Regions from separate parts of the Homo sapiens genome. Here region 1 is linked to region 2. Evidence: fine-mapped QTL for protein levels in blood plasma. A gene starts in region 2. The other region holds a variant in brackets. All regions are shown on one strand. Distances are between the middles of the regions.

Region 1 (5,372 bases), 47 kb after region 2:
CTAGCTAGCAGATGGGACCCCATCTGGGGTGACAGCTTGCAAAGACGGCACCCTGACTCTGGGTCTGCACAGTGTCTGTGTGGTCTGCAGATCTAAGTCCTTCTCCATTTGCAAGGACACAAAGCGCACAGGAGAGTGAAGACACACTCTGTATATGTTTGCTTTAATGCTTAAAGGCCTGGTTTGGGGCTCGGTGCAGTGGCTTATGCCTCTAATACTAGTATTTTGAGAGGCTGAAGTGTGAGGATCACTTGAGGCCAGGAGTTCAAGACCAGCCTGGGCAACATAGTGAGACTGTGTCTCTCCATGCAAAACAAAACACAAAATCTAAACCAAAAAACTTAGCTGGGTGTGGTGGCATGTGCCTGTAGTTCCAGCTCCTCCGGGAGGCTAACTGGGGAGGATCCCTTGAGTCCAGGAGTTCAAAGCTACAGTGAGCTGTGATCACACCACTGCACTGCACTCGAACTGCGTGACAGAGAAAGACCCTGACTCAAACAAAAAAAAGGAAAAAAAAATCTAGTTCGACTTCCTTTGAGAGTCTTTTCCCTGGAGCTATGGAGCTGGCAAAGCCTTCAGGAGTCCTGAGATATTTTCTCCCTGAGAGTCCTAGGACACCCTTTATCATTGGAGCCTGCAGAGCCCATAAGGAATGTTTAATTACAGCTTCGGTCCTTAGAAAAGAAGGTCCATCTCCTGGGTCTGTCCCTGCGGTTCGAACCCACCATGCAGGTCTGGGCGCGCATGACCACATGTTTCTACAAGTGCATACTCATATCCAACTTCCCAGTTTAAACAAACAAACAAAAAATACATCAAGGAAAAGTTATTTTATACTTAGCAATCCACACTATCAAAATTTTTCAGTCAGAAAAGTCCTTAGTATGTGAATCAATTCCATCATTTTATAAAACCGATGTTACACACCTTGTCTTGTCTCATAGAACTGAGCCTTTTTATCAACCTCTTGCTGTTAGAACCTGGCCTGTTTCCTCTGCCTGCCTGGCATAGTTAGAGACAGGACACATTTTGGTTCTTTGTCCCCTTTGTAAGATCCCCATGAGGTCTTGAGTGTGAATCTCAGAAAACAGTTTTGCTCAAAAACCAAACACCCCCTAAGATCCCAGGAAGTGGCGGTGACTTTGCACTGTTTTCAGCAGTGCCTGTTCCAAGGAAGGTTGTTAGCATTGGGTTAAAACCATCAGAAAATCCATCATGAGGGCGTTTTCAGCTTTACCAGAAGCAGGAAGTTACAGAAATCTCTGAAGTAGAGTCCGTCCTGGTGCAGCCCGGCTGACTCAATGGGTTTACATGTTTTGGTTGTGGTTTGAGGATATAAAACCTCTGGATGGGATGTCAGGTGAACCTGCAGTTTGCTGATGGCTAGTAGGGTTTGAGTATTTCTCTGTATGTTGCTAGCTGTCTGTGTGCGATGCTCCTTTCCAATTTTGTTCTTCCAGATCCCCTCCTCTCCTTCAAGAATGTGTGGACTTGTGCTGCTATCTCCTCAGCCCTTCGCAGATCTGGGGGTCTCCTTTATATTTTGCGATGTTTCAGAGTTTCTGGGGCTTTCTGGGTTGGCCTCCCTTTGCCTGAATGCAGGCCATTGTCTTGTACGCTGACTTGCCCCAACTATTGTATGGCTGTTCCCGAAAAGTAGACTCCACAGCTCACTTTGTTAATGCTACCAATATGTACTCTATAAAATCTTGGGGGAAACAGCTGAATACGGAGGATGACATTACCTCCCTAGAACCGGCTGCTGGTAGAACCACACATCTGGATCTGGCCCTAAACTTTCCCAAAAGGAATCTCTGCACTTTGGGATCCAGGCCTAATGTGCTGCCCCCTCTGTCCTGCAAGGAGAGCCTCATTCCAAGTTGCAGCATGGTCAACCATGAGGACCTCTGTTTTCTCAGGGATGATCTTTTCCTGACCCAGGGGAATTGGGACCTCAAAGAGCTAGGGCAAGGTCATATAAAATGTAAGTTTACTTATATTTTTATATATAAGATGGAAGACTCCGTCAGGCTTCCCTCCCACTGTGGGTGCTCTCTCAAGCCCTTCCTGCTGCCTCTCCATAGCTGGTCTGGCCCAGTCTCCCCAAAGACTTTGCCTCAAATTCTCAGTGAGAACAGACTTGAACCAAGAGAATAGATTAATAAATTCATAGGTCATAAATAGGTCATACATTCATAAACTGGGAAAAGGAGTAAGTTCTTAACCTTCCAGGGCTGTGGTCTTCCTATTCCAACCACAACACAGAAGTGCTGTATCCTCCCAAAGGTGGATTAGAAGGGATCCCCTGGCTCAGAATCATGCATAGAACGCTGCAAAAGTTTACTCCAGGGCAATCCCAGCCTCCCTGAGACTCACTCACAGCCTTTCCCCTTCAGAATGGACCCACTGAGCCCTTAGCTCTGACTTGAACCTGAACAAGGTGACCTTGGGCAGGTGGTCTTCCCCAGCCTGAGTCTGACCCTCAAATGTGGAAGTTGGAGGTGGCCAGGTCTGCCCCTTGCTGCTGTCCTGTGCTCTCCGTCGCTGCTGGAGAGGGGATTTGCTGGGGCACGCTTGCTTTTCTGACCCAGGCAAGCTTCTTTTTGGTGCCTTTCTCTAACAGATAAAAAAATGGTATGAGAGAAGAATTGAGCACCTGTGAGATGCCTGCCCATTCCCAAGGGTTGGGGAGCTCAGCCTGACTCCCACTCCCTGGGCGGGCCTGGTTGCCTCACCCCCAAGGTCCTCACAGTCCAGGCCACAGAGAGTGAGGGCTGTGGCTGTTCTTTTTCCTGTGTCATCTCAGCAAAGGGGGATCCTGCCAGTTAATGCAGGAAACAGACTGGAAAAGATGGCAAACCCAAAGGTAAGGGTGTCCTGCCGGAGCTCCCCAGGGCTCAGGAGACTTCCCACCCTTCTCCTGAGGGTGGGCCTGGCTTTCCTGCCTCTCCCACCCCTGGTGCCTGCTGCTCACCTGACAAGAACCCATTTGGTCAGTGCCCACATCCTCTAAGGCACACAATCCTGGGCCTCCAGGTAGGGCCTTCTCCTTGGATTGACAGGCGGGGCCTAGGGGAAGGAGCTTATATTCTCCCTCTCTCTCTGTCTCTTCTGATCCTTTTTTGTTTTTCAGAGAAACTATTCCAACAACACAGGAATAGACAGACTCAGATGTGCTGGTTCTCGCTCACCTGCCCTCCCAGCCCTCTCTCCCCGC[G/A]GAGGTGAACAGAGCCATTGCCTGGTGAGCCCCTGCAGGCTCCATAAGTGCTGCTTCCATGCCCTTCCTTTAAATGGGCCAAGGGCGGGCTCTATTGATGTAGCAACTTGCTTTCCACAACGTGTCCCGGCTCTTTCTATGTGGGTGGACACACATCTCTTTCATCTTTCAAACTTTCCCCCTTTGCCCCTTTGCCCAGGTATGGTAAGTGTCCAATGGCTACAGAAACTTGATGAATAGACTGTATTAAGCGTCTGATTAGCTATAAATCCTTGTGCCTGGTGTTGGAGATCTGGGGTAGTATCTGTTGCATGCTGACCTTCCCAAGTCAGGATTTCTCTCCCTTCTGATTTGCCTTTTTCTGATTAACGTCCAAACGTGAGGAATATTCAGTTCTCTTTAGATGAAGAATCTCCTCAACTAAGAGTCATCTAGATGGAAGATTTTGAAAATTTAGTTGCAAAGAGATGAGGCTGTGTCCTGTTTTGTATTCTGCTTTCTCTCTTGTGGGAATGTCCCCACCCTTCACGGAGCTGCGCTCCTTCCTCGAGGCCGGCAGGGCGGATGCCAAGTGTTCTGGAGAAACTGAATTAAGGACACATTGTTTTCTACCCCTCTGTGCACTCATTTTGTTTCATATCAGATGATATCATTTTGTTTGGATATATATCAGATTATACCATTAAATCTGAGGGGACCATAAATATCGCAAAGTGAATCCCTGGCTAACATTCTGACCTTGCTTACCTGCCTGGATTCTACACTTAACAGAAAGTAATTTATTCCAGGGGTGACAGGGAATTTCCATGGTGCGAGTGGAGAAGAATTCTGAAGGCTTGCCCATGCTGGCAGGAAGGAGTGTCTTAATGATTAATTATGTCCTCTAGTCACTCTAAGGCCAGTGACAAAGGGTGGGCAAGTATTTGCCATCTTCTGGAGTGAGCAACTGTTGCTACCCTCTTGGGCCCATCCAAAAAGAAACATCCAAGCTCCCGAGGGACAGAGAGATGCACATCACAAAAGCCAGTGGGTGTGCGCTTTATCGCTTAGTGCTTAACCTGGTCATCTACCTGCCAATCAGCTGAAACATACCAATCTACGTGGGAAGCTTCCATTCGTATAGTCCTGCCGCTTCCTGTGGCCGCTGCATATTCAATGCTCCTTGCTGCTTATTTCTGGAATTGAGGTGGCCTCGTGCTTTTATAGGACAGCAATTGACACATTTGCCCTGGCAGCTGAGACAGCCCATGAGGAAAGACGCTTTGGGGTCCACCTGTCCTATTTAGAAACAGTTACACAGTGAGTTAATTTCCAGATGCTGGGTTCATTTTCAGAAAGTCTTTTGGAAGCAGGGAAAAGAGTGGTTTGGAACCCTTGTTCTTTTGGAGTTTTTTGGGGGAATGGAAAATAACCTCTGGGCAGTTCTCTTTGTGTCAGAAGCCTTGTATCAATCACCAAATAGTTATCCAACATTTACCCAGTCTGGAGTGTATGGGGCTCCGGGCCAGAGCCCAGGCACAGAGCCCTAGTTGGGAGGAGCCCACGTTCAGCAGGGCACATGGCAAAAGGTGGTACTCGTTCAGGTCAGGGCTGGGAGATCAGCAGTATAGAGAGACTGGTGTGGCTGCCCAGGCAGGGGGTGGTTGTGCCTGCCTGGGGCATTGGGAAGGCTGCCGAGACCCAGTGACACTTGGGCCTGGCCTTGAAGGTAACTAGGAGTTTGCAAGCTAGAGAGTGAGGGAGAGGAGAGGTTGGGAAGGATGCGCAGAGGCTGTGTTTTGGACTTGGGGAGAATTGGTTGGGTTGAGGGAATGTCCAGAGAGAGATTTGGCAAGGACACTCGGAGACTGGTGTGTGGGTGGCCTCCTGGGCTGCCTTAGACCCTCATCTTCATGCCCTGCTGCTATGAATTTTTTATTATTGTATTTTGTTTCATTTTGACAGGATATTTTGATAGACTTCTAAAAATGGACAGGACTGTTTTTCTAGCCTTTTGTGATAAAAGTGCCCTTTGTGCTAAAAATTCTAGCCCATGGTGTGTTGCATCTGTAGGTCTCTAGCTTGGCCAGGCCTGCTTCTGTTTGGGGTTTCTAGAGCTGATATTCCTCTGCTGAAGGCTTTATAAGCTCAGATGGCATTTCCTGCCCTGAATCCA
Region 2 (5,369 bases):
GTCTATTCTAGAAAGCTACCTGGGGCTGCAATGATTTGGCTGCAGATGCTCTGCTCTCCCCTGGAAGTGGCTACTGGCAGGTCACTCACCAGGGCCTTAGGAAAGTCCCTCTCCTCTCTGGGTCTTAGTTTCCTCACCTGCCAAACAGCTCACTGAGGTCCTGCTGTAAAGTTCCCCAAGGGGTTTCATACCTTGGGAAGCACACATTCCCAGGGTCCAGCACAGAGCCTCACAGAGGAGGTCCCTACCTGCGAGGATTTGGTTTCAATTTCTTTTAATCTTAGCTTGCTTTCTTTTTCAAGGAAATACTGAGATAAAAGAGATACTAAGAATGTAAATACTCTAAGAACATGTAAATAAACGTATTTATACTTCTTTTCTAAGAACCTTGAGTAATTTCTTAAATTTCCTTGGTTTCTTCTTAATGCCTGGGCTGCAGACTAGGGCATGAAGACAAAACAGTTCTATTTAAGCAACAGATAATTGTGACTTTTGACTGTCGAAAATTTACCTTTTTTTGTCAAATAGATTCTAGAAGTCACTTAGATCTTTTTATAATCTTATAACTCACATCAACCTATACTACAGTGCTACTAAGGTGGTAATCATGATGATTGCTAAAGCCCAAGAATGACGATGTGTATCAGTATTTCTAAGATCACTTTTTGAATACCCCAAAATGCACAATAATGTACGACACTTGGCAAATGACATAACTTTGCCCCGAGAGACAAATGCCTCCAGCAGCTTTAACAGCTGACCAGAGCCAGTGTATGTTTCAGGCATCTTGCCTTTCCATGAATCCAGCATTTCTCAGGGGTGAACAGAGCCAGCCTTGCCGAGCCAGAAAATAACTTCACCCGGGCGTGGAACTCTACAGCTACATAAATTATAAAGGGACTGTTCATCCTGCTAGCCCTAGATGGGGGCCTGCCCAGTGACATCTGTCCAACGTGATCGTTGGGGAGTTGGGGGAATTAGGATGGGGAGAATTCTCCCAGCCTTCAGCTGTGCAAGGCAGGAACTTTATTTCTCATATAACTAGGTGAGGCTGGCTAAGAATGCTTGAAAGAACAGCTGCCAAATCCATTTAAACAACCCCCGCTCCTTTTTTTAAGGGAACAATGTGATGCCCTTACCAGAGTCGCTGTCTGCCTGATACTGATAGTGGCTAAGCCAAGAGGGTAACTCTGCCAAATGTTTGCATTTTTCCTCTTCTGGGGCTCCCCTTAACAACATCTCATTCCCCCCCCCATTTCAGATTAAGAAGGGAGACAGCCCTAGGACTGATTCCAATTCCCTTCCGTGTCATTGAAATTGACTTAGTCCACATTGCCCGCACCCACCACGCACCTGGAAGTTTGTTTGAGGTCGGCGCAGGTGCAGGGGTGGCCCGAGTTGTAAGAATGGTATGGTACTGAAAGTGGCACGCGGAGTTCAAACCTACACTCTGTTGTGGCCGCTGGGTAACCTTAAGAAGTTACTTCTTTTTCAGCTTCAGGTTTTCCAACCGCAGAAGATATCAAAACCCGAATCCACTTTACTTGTTTTTGGACATACCGGGACTAGACATTGCTTTGCAAACCAAAAGGCTGTGCAAAGTCAGTATTTTAAAAGAGAGGTACTATTTCCTACAACGTGCCTGCCCACCTTCCTTGGTCCAAATCCGCCTATATCCCCCCCATCCCCAAGCATCCCTGGGATTGCAGTCCGTGTGCACCCCCGTGCGGGGCGAGGAGAATCTCCTGTGTCCAGGATCTTTCCAACAGCTAAACATCGGTACCGCTCCCCTCAGCTCCGGAAACCTTTAACCCATTTTCACTGAAAGCGCTTTGCAATTTACAAGTACTCTGCACTTAGAGAATCGAGCAAGTAGAGGGCCGGCTGGGGAGGGTCCCTCCGGCGACCGCCTTCACCTTTCCCGGAGCGCCTTCAGTTTCCCCACATATTATCTCCAGTGAGAAGAAAAGCGGAGTCTCCCGCAGCGGCACCCAGCAACCCCCAGGCCCTTCGGCGCCAGTGCGCCGGGTGCTGCACGCAGCGCACCTGGCGCGGGCGGCTCACCTGGAGCTGGCGGCGCTGGCAGCAGGTAGGCGCGCAGGCGGCTGACGGCACTAGCGTTGACGCAGAGCCCGCGGCCGTCCAGCAGCGCCTGCAGCGGTCGCGCCTCGTCGGGCGACGGCTGGCAGCGAAGGCCGGAGCCACAGCGCTCGGTGTAGATGCCGCACGGCTGGCCCTCGCTCAGTGCGCACGTCAGGCAGCAGCCGCAGCCCGGCTCGCGCACCAGCTCCGCGCACACGGCGGGCGGAGGCGCGCACTGGGCCAGTGCACGCGCGTCGCACGGCTCGCAGCGCACCACGGGACCCAAGCCCGCCGAGCTCGCGCCAGCCCGCGCCACCGGCGGCCCGCGGAGCAGCACCAGCAGAGTCAGCGCAGCGGCCCAGAGCGTGGGTCGCGCCCGCTGCATGACGCCTGCAACCGGGGCACGCTGCTTGGCAGGCTGGGCGCGCAGGGATGGGGCGACAGTACACGGCGCGAAGCTGTGGAATCCAGGCAGGAAGCGGCTGATCCTCAGCGCCCAGCCGCAGTGCTCGCATCTGGGCGGCCCGGGCGCGCCGGCCGCTATATAGAAGCCGGGGTGGCCCAGGACACGCCCCGGAACGGCGCGCCCAGGAGTGGGGGTTGGGAGGGGGGCGGGTCGGCGCAGGCACGGCTGCGGGGGCCCGTGCTTCGCCCTGAGCAGCCGGGGCCGAGCTCGGGGGCGTGCAGCTCGAGACTCGCCCGGGCACCTGCTCCTCGTGCGCACGCCCGGAGCCCGGGTCACCTTGTCGTCTACAAGAACCAAGGTGTGCCCGGCCACCCCGGCACTCCAGGCCACCTCAGCACCCCCGGTCACCCCAGTCACTCCTGGCCAACTCAGCACCCCCGATCTCCTTGACCCCGCCGCCCTTACCCCTTCCGCTCTCGGGGTGAGGTCTCCCTGCGGCGAGCCGGTGTCGGGGAAACTGGCATACAGCGCTCCGCATTCGTGTGTACCTCGTGGAGCTTTCTAAAATTTAATTCCGTTGGCAGGCGAAGTCTTGGGACATTTCTGACTTACATTTGGGTCTCAGGGAGCCAAGGCACTGCGGGGTTTAATTTACACCCGCTGGGCTGTTTATATCCCCAGGGGCCCACAAATACGCATCTGAAGATGCGCCCGGGGCCTTCGCCCCTTTCCAGGCTTACTTCTCAACGCAAGAAGACTCTCACGTGTTGCTACACCGCAAGTCTCCAATTAAGAGTGGACCGGCAAGCGAATGCGTCCTTAAGGCAGGGCTTTTCAAATATTTTAAATGACAACTGTTCTTCTTGTCTTGGGTATTCTCCCTGATTATGTTTTCAAATGGAGTTTACACCCATGACAAAAGAATAATAAAGACAATAAACTGGGCACTGCTGAAACGTAATTAACCAAATAGTCCTTTAATAGGCAATTTTCATTGTCATTTTTTGAAGGCGACTTCGTATTACTGTATTCTCGATGCGTTGGGATTCTAGCTTATCTCTGCAATCTAAACACTTTTCAGTAAAGTTCGGGGGCGCAATTGCGCGCTGAGGTCGCTGTAACTCCTGTCGGCCTTCTCTGGCACTCGAGTTTCTTCAGTTTTGTCTGCGCACCCCCTCCCTTCGGTGACCAACAGAGGACGCTGGTGGTCCAGGATTGGATTGAGGATTAAATTTTTCAAGGCACTTTTCCAAAGAGTTTGTGGGGGTGGAGTGGGAAGCGGTGAGACCTCCGCGGGAGGAGACTTTCCTGAACGCTGTTGAAATTGGACGCTTGCCTTAGGAGGTGGATAGGTGACTTGAAGGAGCCCTTTGCAGTTTGGAGTAGTAATAGCAAATCAGGAGCTCCTCCATTCCCCTCCAGCACGAAGCCTTGGGTGAAGTTAATCTTCATTCATCATTTCTGTCTCTCCTAATCGATCTCTCGCCCAGTGTCTCTCCTTGTCCCTCTCCCTCCCTTTCTCTCTCTCGTCCTCTCCCCTTTTCCCCCTGTCCACCTCTTCCCCCATATCTATACAGCTTCCTTTTATACATATATACTCTCCTTTTAGAATGGAAAGATCAATTTCGTTCCCTCTTGTACTAAATAAATAAATAATTGGACCTCTACAAATAAAAAGAGACCAAAGACAAGAACAATGGAGTGCCCCGGGGTGACGAAGGCCCAGCACCGTCATTTTCTTATGAGCTCTTCTCCCACAGTGCTCAGGCTGTGGCTACACTCAACCTTGTTTACAGGAAACCGTGCCATAATCGTCGCTTGCTGTTTCCTTTCTCTTGTATCACCTCCTTCTAGTATCTGCGTTGACACCCAAGAACAGGATCTCTGATTTCATTGGAAAATTGAAGGAAACAAAACGAATCCCCCAGGTTTACATCCGTTCCTTAAATACTCGCAGAGACCTTGACTCTGAAATTAGAGCTGGGTTCGGCATCAAATGCAATTCTTGAGGTCCCAGGTCTGCAGTTCTGGTTAGTGCAATGTTGCAGCAGAGCCTGGACTGACCACTGGTTAGTGTAGCACTTTTTATTCAGCTTTATCATCTGGAGAGTGGACAGGGGAAGATCAGAAACAATGTCTTTTTGGAAAGGATTAAAAAATTTGTTTTATTCTTGGTTCTCTTCTTTTTTCCCTCGCATTGCAGTTGGAGAAACTTGTTCAGTGCCGAATGGCTAGGGGGCGCCAAAGCTCCAGGCGTCCAGCCCGGCCTCAGGGACCACGGGACACACGTAAAGACTAAGTCACATTTCAACTTTCAAAGGCTATTCCAATAACAATGTTTTATATAGATTGCCATCACCTTTATCATGACATCTTGCAACAGCAGAGTAAATTTGAGGCAGTGACACGGGGAGAATTGTGTTTTGTTATTTAGCCAGTTTTATTTGATAACTGCAAGCTCCCTGCCCCTCCCGGAACATAATTGTTGCAGGAAGGATTTGGACTGGATAAAACTTAATTTTGTGACATGCTCGTTAATTCTGTTAAACTTCCAATTCATCTGGTGTTTGTAGTTTTTAACATAAACTAGTATTTAGTGAGAAAGATGTTTACCCCCTGTGAAGGTGCTTGGCATACAATTGCTAATCATTGCAAAAGTAGCGAATAACCATCCGAATAGAGGTCAGGAGGCTGCATAGATCTCTTTTCACTAACGGAGTCCAGCTGACCTGATTATAATTAGTGTTTCCTTTGGTCAGCCTCGTTATTTTCACCAGGTGACCTAAACCACTCATTTCTTTGAGCCCACTCCTGCTGCTAAAGGGCACCTTGTCGCTGCGTGATACTGGCTCCTTTGCTTTTCTTCTGCTCAGCCCCCAGC

Which allele goes with the higher level. Alleles are on the strand shown, and positions count from the first base shown. The strength of an association depends on the size of the effect and on how common the allele is.
In carriers of allele A in region 1, the plasma level of the protein whose gene starts at base 2,599 in region 2 tends to be higher than with G alone (strong association).

The links. PIP is the chance, under the fine-mapping model, that this variant and not a neighbour inherited with it causes the effect. The UK Biobank Pharma Proteomics Project read protein levels with antibody pairs (Olink). The fine-mapping took linkage between variants from a reference panel, not from the people measured, so its PIPs are less certain.
Region 1: its variant is fine-mapped to the plasma level of the IGFBP3 protein (UK Biobank, PIP above 0.99).

Annotation. Positions count from the first base shown.
Region 1 is chr7:45,965,294-45,970,665 of GRCh38, forward strand. All of the region lies in intron 1 of LOC102723446 (a long non-coding RNA gene), which reads left to right. Among named protein-coding and RNA genes, the nearest start is that of IGFBP3, 47 kb to the left of the region's middle. The variant G/A (reference allele first, on the strand shown) is at 3,218.
Region 2 is chr7:45,918,674-45,924,042 of GRCh38, forward strand. IGFBP3 (insulin like growth factor binding protein 3) reads right to left here and starts at 2,599. Exons shown (of 5, transcript NM_000598.5): 1 at 2,065-2,599. The coding sequence starts at 2,467. RefSeq lists enhancers at 2,402-2,982, 2,983-3,563.